Homo sapiens: one gene and its partner. The protein of the gene in region 2 purifies or fractionates together with the protein of the main gene of each other region. This does not show direct contact. Each region holds a gene or a part of one and is shown on either strand. Other genes may lie near its edges.

The links. Proteins that work in one complex are often made in the same cells at the same time.
Region 1: the proteins of PPP2R2B (region 2) and MTCL1 purify together in Homo sapiens (affinity purification with mass spectrometry; 4 studies listed by BioGRID and IntAct, with this or other methods). This does not show direct contact.

The regions. Positions count from the first base shown.
Region 1 is NC_000018.10:8,781,036-8,786,064, forward strand, and holds part of MTCL1 (microtubule cross-linking factor 1), read left to right. Parts: intron 1-2,494; coding exon 2,495-3,808; intron 3,809-4,900; coding exon 4,901-5,029. UniProt on the Homo sapiens protein: Microtubule-associated factor involved in the late phase of epithelial polarization and microtubule dynamics regulation.
Region 2 is NC_000005.10:146,584,258-146,589,286, reverse strand, and holds part of PPP2R2B (serine/threonine-protein phosphatase 2A 55 kDa regulatory subunit B beta isoform), read left to right. Parts: 3' UTR 1-5,029. UniProt on the Homo sapiens protein: The B regulatory subunit might modulate substrate selectivity and catalytic activity, and might also direct the localization of the catalytic enzyme to a particular subcellular compartment.

The DNA.
Region 1 (5,029 bases), on a different chromosome or scaffold from region 2:
ACACTCCTGTAGTCCCAGCTACTCGGGAGGCAGAGGCAGGGGGCAGGAGAATTGCTTGAACCTAGGAGGCAGCGGTTACAGTGAGCCAAGATTGCGCCATTGCAGTCCAGCCAGAGTGCAGACTCCAGAGCAAGACTCCATCTCAAAAAAAAAAAAAAAAAAAAAAAAAAGAATGAATGAACAGATAAACGAGCATGCTTTTCCTCTAGTATTAGTATTAAACACAACGTATGCCTTTTACAGCCCATGTATTCTGTGTAGGTTCTTTCAAAAAATACGTCATTACCCCAGCAGCGATGATAGCATAGCCCATTTGCCTCAGTAGTTGTGAGTAGGGCAGACAGCCTTACTTCAAGTTAGTCACAGGATTGCTTTTTATGTCTACCTAACCCAAACCCAACCAAATCCTTCATGTGATAAGTTCTCAGAACTCAAAGACCATGTGACATTTATATGTTATTCTCCTAACGTGCAAAGAAGGAAAAAGACTCTTTACCGGCTCCTTTACCCAATACTAATTGTGTTTCAGACAAATAAGAAAATTAATTTCAGGGAGCTAGAGCATGGTGATTTATCATACACAAACCAGTTTATATATAATAAATACACTTTTTAGGTTTATGATTTATCATATACAGACCATTATTTCATTTGACCCTCACAACGACGTTGTGGTTAAGTGAGCATTCCTGCTTTAGATACAAAGAGACAGGTTCACCGGGGCTCTGTGATGAGCCCAGGTCCCTTAGACAGTAGGAGGGGCAAAGCTAGGACTCCGGGCAGCATGTTTGACCCCAAGTCCAGCAGGCCTGGTTTTGTCCTCAGCTAAGAGATGACAGTGGGCGTGTCATCCTCCCGAGGACGCACAGATAGCGCCAGGGCAAGCTTTCCCTGTGGCAGTGGCTGCACACTTGGTCGTAGGTGTTGGGCTGAGCCTTCCTGGTCATATCGTTTTCCCCCTTTCCATGGGGTTTGTGGTGAGCAAGGAGGGACCAGGTAGAGTGGAAGGAGGAAAGTTGGGAGGCGCCGAGGGAGGCATTTCTCTTTCTGCCAAATGATGAGTGTGCGACCAGACTGCGGCAGAGAACGAGCCATGCTCTCTGAGTGTAAAAGCTGCATTGTGAGCACACGTGACGATCCGAAGGAGTTAATTCTCCCCCGGGGGCTGACTTGTTCCACAGAAGGGGCGACAGGCCTGGAGAGCAGTTTGAAGCCTTTTCCTCCACGAGGGCTGTGGGATTTGACTCCCGCAGTGCTGTTGTTGACAGTTTCTCTGTGTGATGGGGGAAACCTTTGCTGAAGCCTTTTGAAACTTTTGATGGCCGATCAAAGAGGAGTGATTCGTGAAATCGGTTATTTTTCCCATCTGCTGAATGTGAACAGTAAAACGTTTTTGCAAAACCAAAACGGGGAGTTCATCTGGCTTCAAAACAAGGAGACCAGCCCTGCAAAGCAGCGTTGACTTTCCACTGGACCCAAAAAGTGCCGTTTTGACCTCAGCCAAGCATTGCAGGCTGTGAACAGCAGAGTCAGCTTTTGAGGATCCTCCAGAACCCTCTGGAAGCCCTATGAGGACACTTCTTAGGTTTTGATACACTTGACTCTATCCAACACTTACCTCCTTGCCTTGGGTCTCTGGGTTTAATTTCCTGCTGTGTTATAGCAACTAAAGGGAAAGGAACGTAAGTAAAGGCTCTGAAGTTGCACTTGCATGGCAAGAGGCTGCAAGGAGCTCAGGTGTCTGGGTCTGCAGTACCCAGTGTGTACCCAGAGCTCGGTACTGACTCAGTACGTGCCTGGACTTCCAAACACCTTCATGCTCATACCTCATGTTTTTGTCATGTCATTCTTGTGGGACATTAGGGCTGGGGAGACCGGGATGGGGAGAAGCGAATTGCCCTGTCTCAGGTACCTTAGGAAACCAGGGGAAAGCTGAGCTCTCATTTGGGGTGGCCTGACTTCCCCATCCTGGTCAGACCTTGTGGATTGTGGGCCACTTTGAAAGAGGGAGGTCTGCACGTTGGAGGTGGTGAGTGCAGCAGGGTGGAACCCTGTCTGCCTGCACCAGGCCTTGGTGAGGGGTCCTGCTGTCTCTCACTGGTGCTGGTGAGTAACCAGGTGGGATCCAGAGAGCAAGGAGGGGTTGCGCATTCCCGCTGGGTTTTGGGCCTCATTTCGTTTTCCCTTCTTTGCCCATAACTTGTATGATGGTTTCCACGTGCACTTTTTTTTTTCCAAACTAATTTTTTTTTGTTTCTTTTGCTTCTGTGGCAAAGCAACAAACTGTAGGCCTTTCACAGGCCCCCTCCACAAAGCCCCTGGGCCCACCTCTGCTTTGTCTTGGCTGTTTCTCTATGTAACTCAGCGGCACCGATGGGAAGATCGGTGTTTGATGTTTGTGTGCATTGGGGGCGAGGTGTGAGGGGAATCATGAAAAACACGAACATTTGGTATTTTCAAATAACCCTTCTCCCGGGCTGTTCTCTCCTGGCAGGATGACAGTGCCGATTTGAGGTGCCAGCTCCAGTTTGCCAAAGAGGAAGCCTTCCTGATGCGCAAAAAGATGGCCAAGCTAGGAAGGGAGAAGGACGAGCTGGAGCAGGAGCTCCAGAAGTACAAGTCCCTCTATGGGGATGTGGACAGTCCCCTGCCCACGGGGGAAGCAGGCGGGCCCCCCAGCACCCGGGAGGCCGAGCTGAAGCTGCGGCTAAAGCTGGTGGAGGAGGAAGCCAACATCTTGGGCCGGAAGATCGTGGAGCTGGAGGTGGAGAACCGTGGCCTCAAGGCAGAGATGGAGGACATGCGGGGCCAGCAGGAGCGGGAGGGCCCGGGTCGGGACCACGCACCCAGCATTCCTACCTCACCCTTCGGTGACTCCCTGGAGTCCTCCACTGAGCTCCGCCGCCACCTGCAGTTTGTAGAAGAGGAAGCGGAGTTGCTCCGGAGGTCCATCTCCGAGATCGAAGACCACAACCGGCAACTGACCCACGAGCTCAGCAAGTTTAAGTTTGAGCCTCCCCGGGAGCCGGGCTGGCTAGGAGAGGGTGCAAGTCCTGGTGCCGGGGGTGGGGCCCCCCTGCAGGAGGAGCTGAAGTCAGCCAGGCTGCAGATCAGCGAGCTCAGCGGCAAGGTGCTCAAACTGCAGCACGAGAACCACGCGCTGCTGTCCAACATCCAGCGCTGCGACCTGGCAGCCCACCTGGGGCTGCGTGCCCCCAGTCCCCGGGACAGCGATGCCGAGAGTGATGCGGGCAAGAAGGAGAGTGATGGGGAGGAGAGCCGCCTGCCCCAGCCCAAGCGGGAAGGGCCTGTTGGCGGGGAGAGTGACTCGGAGGAAATGTTTGAGAAGACGTCGGGCTTCGGGAGCGGGAAGCCATCGGAGGCCAGCGAGCCATGCCCCACGGAGCTCCTGAAGGCCCGGGAGGACTCTGAGTACCTAGTGACCCTAAAACACGAGGCCCAGCGGCTAGAGCGGACGGTGGAGCGCCTCATCACGGACACCGACAGCTTCCTCCATGATGCGGGGCTGCGGGGTGGTGCGCCCTTACCGGGGCCTGGCCTCCAGGGCGAAGAGGAGCAGGGTGAGGGGGACCAGCAGGAGCCCCAGCTGCTGGGGACCATCAACGCCAAGATGAAGGCTTTCAAGAAAGAGCTGCAGGCCTTCCTGGAGCAGGTGAACCGCATTGGGGATGGCCTATCCCCCTTGCCCCACCTCACAGAGTCCTCTAGCTTCCTCTCCACTGTGACTTCCGTGTCCCGGGACTCCCCCATCGGGAACCTGGGGAAGGAGCTGGGCCCAGACTTGCAGGTAAGGGGGCTCGTGGCTTCGCCTCCCTGCTCCGCCTTGCTCTTCCTCCTTCTCGCTGGCATTGCTGCACTCGGGCTCACGCTGCTCACGGCTGCTTGGTTATGATTTCAAACCTGCATTGTACTAAAGCCTCCGGGGCAACCGGATCCTCTCTCTTGGTTGGGCTCCGTTTTTTTTGTTTTTTTTTTTTTTAAGTTCTCTTGTATTGCCTTGTTTCTTTTTCCTTTCTCCTGTCTTATTTTTAACTGCGCCGCGGCTCATGGTTTAGAGGCCCTCCCAGACACGAGGCTGAGCCCAGTGGAAGCGATAGGGCTCGACGCATGCCGGCCTTGCTCCTCTCTTGGTATCTCAACCAACCAGCCACCCGCTGAAGAAGCCGTGAGGAGGCTAAGACAAACGCATGTCACAGTCAGGATAATTAGCAGACTCGCTAACGAGCACGTCCCTTCCTGGGTGTGTTTCAAGGGACACAGTGCAGTCCAAGGCCCTAGGCAGCCCAGGCCCCCACTCCCACTGGAGGATCAGCCAAAGCGGGCGAGGAGCACGGTGCTGAGAAGGATGGTTTTGGTGGAAAAGCTCTGCTGGCTCCTGCCGCCCTGCCGCCGCTGGGGAGGGCGCGGAGGGTCTCCGAGGACTGCTGTCCTAGCCTCGCCTGGGTGCATGGCCCAGCTGCCGCCCTGGACTGTGGCTTTGGCTGCTCGACCCACAAGTAAGGAAGGAAGAGCCTCGTTTTCCGTTTCCTTCACGGGTAGCGTGCTTGCGGTTGAGTTCTGGATTCACGCATCGCCATCGCATGTGCCCCGTAACCAGTGTTTTGCACCCCCACTTTCTCTTTTTGCTTTTCAGATGTGTCCACCCGCCCCTTTGCTCATCCTCATCTTGGGTCTGTTTTCTTCACTTTCTTACACCACTGTCTTTAAGCCTGTGTTTCTGTTCGTGCTGTTCTTTGGTCGTTTTCTCAGTCGTCTCCCTTGTCCATTTTTGTTTTCTTTATCCCCCCTCCCTGCCTCCACCCTTGTCCTTTGTTTGTTTGTTTTTTTGTTTAAAATTTTAAAGAACAACAACAACAAATTCCTCCCGTGCACCTAACAGTCCAGACTGAAAGAGCAGCTGGAGTGGCAGCTCGGGCCGGCCCGAGGGGACGAGCGGGAGAGCCTGCGCCTCCGAGCCGCGCGGGAGCTGCACCGCCGCGCAGACGGGGACACCGGGAGCCACGGGCTG
Region 2 (5,029 bases):
GGGAACTTGAATGCTTCAGGGGACAGAAAGAGAGCACTTTCGACACAGTGCTTCCCAGAGTGAGCTTGGCAGGGCCAGGCGGGGCCAAATTCCATCTGCTGCCTTGTTACTCTTGCTTTTTGTGCTCTTAAATGGCTCCATATAATCTTCTACTTACATGTTCCTTGGCTTTTTTCTCTTCAACCTTTTCCAGCTTATTTATTCCATTGACTTCTAAAGGCCGAGTCCTGGGTGCTTATTATCTGGTGTTCTAAATGAAGCAGTAAGTTGGAAGCAGTGCCACCACCCCTGAGTCCCTGAGAAAGGCTGGTCTGTTCTTTTTGGGTGTTTCTCCTAAGCAGCACCCTCCCCTCCTCCTGGTTTTGGTAACCAAAAGTAACAATCCATCAACCTCCATTGTACCTAGAACAAAAATAGCCAATAAAAACGCTGAGTTGTGAAGTCCAATCAGGCACTTCTAACTCACCCCAAGCTCGCCATCTGGAAAAACAGACCAGAAGGCTCTCTTCTACAGAAATGAACTGTGGGGAAATCAAGCAGCTGTGACATGAAGTGAATGAAGTCCACTTGAAGCTGTGGAAGATGGTTCATCCTTTTCCCCAGTTGAGGATCCAGATTTATAACTTCTAGAAAGCCATTTCCAGAAGGTTCTATGTGGCACACCCCTAGGAAAGGCACTAAATGCATGCAAAGGATTTATAAACTTAGGAAAGTAGATGGGTGGAGTCCAGAAAACTGGTTCTGGGTTAATATCTCTACATCTGTCTTGATGACTCATTTCTCCTAACTCCCATTTAGTGCAGGGTAAATGGTTTGAGATGAGAGTTTTTCAATGAAAGGGAAATTTTCTTTCAGTTTACAGATGTATTAGAAGTCCTGACTTTCAAGTGTAATTTGCTTTGGAGGAGGAAAAAATAGTGAAAGAATCATTTTATCTCAATTCTAAGCTACTATCCATTTACTAATAGCTTTTTGGCAAGGAAATAACTGTCACCTTAGGTAAAAACAGTCTTGTTAGATGCAGCCCAATTTCAGGAACATTAAAATGTAAAAAAGTACGTCTCAGAATTGAGGGAGCATGGGAACAAAGACGAGACTTTCTCAGTATTTCTCATTTTTCCTGCAAGGAAAGCCTCGCCTTAGGCATCTCAAGTAAAGTGGCTAAGGTGTAAACTCTCTGGGCAAGATTTCTGTCCTGACTGGGACAGTGTTCTTGGAGGAGACATGAGAGAGTCAGAAACTTCTGCCAGTCATAGAGAGTGATGATTTTGCAGAAGGCCACTGGGTTATTGGCCTACATTTACCACCGACTTCCTTTATGGCCTTTTCTCCACTTCTCCGGACTCAGCTCCTCTGTCTGTACCACGTCGGGGGTTGGGACCAATCATTGTATCTCAAACTTAAGAATCAACTCACATTTGTACTATTACTCATGTAACATTTTTTTAAGTCACCTTTTCTTAAAAGCAAGACTTAGCCTCCTCCAAAGAAATAATATGCATGAAATTTCAACTCTGATATGCTAGGTTTTTCCCTAACATTAATCACATAATTATCAATGTAACAAACATGCACCCACATACCACCTGAAATCATTTTGTGAACCACCAGGAGCATGTGTATCAAACTTTGGGACCCTGAGTAACTGATATGACAGAAGATTTATGCCCTTAGGGGCATCAAAGATGGTGGTTCTTCACATATTAGAGTCAGCAGGGCTGCCCATAACACACACAGGAATAATTTTTGTCATGGTTTAAGGAGTTCATAGGCCCCTTTGCAGTTTATCTGCGAACTCCAAATAAAAGCCCCTACACTAGTCCAACACCCTTAGCATATAGATGTACAAACTGGGATCCAGAGTAGGATGAGTTTGCCAGAGAAGAAAGAGCAGAGGGCAGCCATCCTCTCCTCCATCCCCTGCAAAGGATGCATTAGAGCAAACACCCAAGACTCCTGGACGGGAACAGGAGGGGAAAGCCCTAGAGATTAGGCCTCAGGGAGCAATAACCACCACGATGTTTCACAAATTAACTGTTCTTTACCAGGTACTGAACTAGGTATTTTACATGTGTGATCTTTCAGCCCCAGTACTGGCAATATTTCTTAGTTAGTGGCACATAGAAGTCAGTCTGTTTTCCTGCTGACACTAAAAACTACTTGAAGGCTGATTTGCTACCTTGCAACAGTTGGTTCGATTCTAAGGGCCCTATACTACTTTACCCCACAAGGCCTGCTGCTTGGTAAGAGCCATCAGATTACAACTGGAGGGTGTCAGTTGAATGAAGGAAAATGGAAGCCACGCCATCCCTGGCTTTTACAAAAACCATCCTTGCGCAACATTCAGTTCCTGACGTTAAAAACAAGTAATGCAAAAAGCTGAACTTTGGTAGACATTCGTACTCTTCTGTCAGGAGGAGGAAGATTAGTTAGAAAAAACAAAAAAGGAAGATACTAGCCAGCATCAAGAAGTGGGATATATAAAGGCAGATGGGCAGTGGGAATCAAGTTGCTTCTTAACTCCTTCAAGTTTGGCTCCTGCCTTTACTCTTCCATTGAAAAAAAAGCACCTTTAAACCTCTCATTGATCTTGTAATTAATTCAACCAAATCAACTTCTATTAGGCAACCAGCATATATAAGATGGAACAATTGCAAGGTGGAATAAAGATGAAGCTAAAATTCTGCTAGCTCAGTGGCCCAATGAAATAAGTCAGCTATCTCCACTAAACTTCCTTTGAATATTCTAGGGTCCATTATAATAAAAGGTACACACTCAAATGCCCAATTTCTAAGGACTTGAAAAGCCATAATTTCCCTCCCTTCAAGCCTACAGAGCAACTGCCTAAAGCTTCCCTCCCCAGACAACCCCAGGCCTCATTTCTTTTTCAGTCCCTTTGCTAGCTGCCTGCAGGGCTCAAGAAAGCCCTGGTAGGCCTCATAATGAGGATTTAGGGATGACACTATAGTCCACAGCCTGAATGGTGGAACCCTTACTAATTTTCCCTCTTCCGTGATGAATGTGTGGATGAAGCCGGTGTGTTTTTAATAATGCCACCCCACTTCCAAAACAAATCCCCTGACACAGTCTTTGGACATACCACCCTGAATGCACCCGATCTCATCTGATCTTGGAAGTGAAATGGAGTCAGGCCTGGTTAGTCTTTGGATGGGGGAAGTCTAGACACACCACTGAGAAACATTCACACTGCAACCTGATTCACTGTGCATCCAACATGCCTTCATCCACCTCTTCCCCCTGAACTTCTAAGTCAACTCTCAGGGACTGCTTTCCAAGGGAGCAACCAACCTGGTCAGTGGAAAAAGGATGAGACTGGGAGACAGGAAACGTGGGTCCTGCTCCTGGTAACCATGGAACTTAAGCTACCCACTCAGTCCCTATGTCAGTGTCATCACCTGTAAAATGGCCAGAAAGACATCTATCCTAGCTCAGAGAATTGTTATTGGGAGAACAAGAAATCCATTTACTTACAACTATTTTGATAGGTTTAAAGCACCATAAACTAATAATAGCAACAACAGTGATGGGTAATATACTATTGCTTTCCATGCCTCATCTCATTATCTCCTCTCCCAGACCCCATGGTGGCATTAGTATTTCCATTTTGCAAATGAGAAAATAGACTCAAGTTGTCAACCTAGCCAAGGGCACAAAGCCCGAGAGAGATGGAACCAGGACTCCAACTCAAGGTATCTGACTCTAAAGCCAGAGCTGTTAAAATACAGCTCTAACATACAATAGTTGCTAACATTTATTGAGCACTTATTATAAGCCAGGCTTTGTTCTACAAATTTCACATGTATTGACTTATTTACCCCTAAAACTCCAGATGCAGATACTATTGTTGTTCTCATTTTATAGATACAGAAACAGATGAATGACAACCAAATTTACACAGTTCACAAGTGACAAAGCCAGGCAGTTTTAGTTAAAGTTCTTATCCACTATCCCCATCATACATTATGTGTGTGTGTGTGTGTGTGTGTGTGTGTGTGTGTGTGTGTGTATGCATGTAGATGGAAGTTACTGATCAGAAAACAAGCCCCAGTAATGACCCATAAGCTCAATGAATTAAAGATTCATTGGTTGCCTGGGATGTGTCAGGCAGCCAGGTTCTAGACAAGGGGCTGGAGTTACTAAGATATTTAAACCACTGGCCCCTGCCCTCCAAGAGATGACACTCACATAGGAGAAAGTGCATATTTGCATACTGTAAACATTTTTACAATGAGATATCTATGAAGGGCAGAAGTCATACAGAGGAAGAAATAGTTAATCAATGAGTGATAAGAAAAGGTTCTCAGAATGTGTCATCTAAGCAGAATTTTAACTAAATTTGCTCAACAAAGCATGATACAGCGTTTCCAATAGGTAGACCAACATATACCAGAATATGAAGCAAAATCCATATGGCATGGAAACAGAAAGCCAATGTTTCTCTCCTTCCATTAGAAACACATTTTCGACATACTAGAACTAGCCTACCCCTTTTTCCTTTTGTTCATCCAATAACAAATATTTATTAAACCTTATTTTAAGCACTGTATTTAAGTGTAAAGTAGACGGAAAGAATAAAAGGAAACCAATATTTCCTGAGTAGTTATTGCAATGACAGGCATTGGGAGAGGCACTGTTTTAAATCATTGTTAATCACCTGATAGGTAGATGTATTATTCCATTTTTATAGCGAGAAACAGACTCAAAAGGGTTAGATGACGTAGCAGGAAGTTTTATCTAGATCTATCCTGTTCCAGATCCTATACTTCTTCCATCACAGTTATTGGTAATGCAGAGTTACCTTGGCTTGATTATTTTCCCTAGCGTGGATACTCACAAACACGCCATTTCTCTGTGACTAAATATTGCCTGACAGCTGACCAAGAATACAAATTTGGTCTGTCATCAAAGCAGAGAGTGAAGTCAAGTGGCTCACAGGTCTCCAACTTCTGACTTTGACCTTATTATGACTGATTAACTGTCCCCCAATTTAGATATTCCATGCCCCATT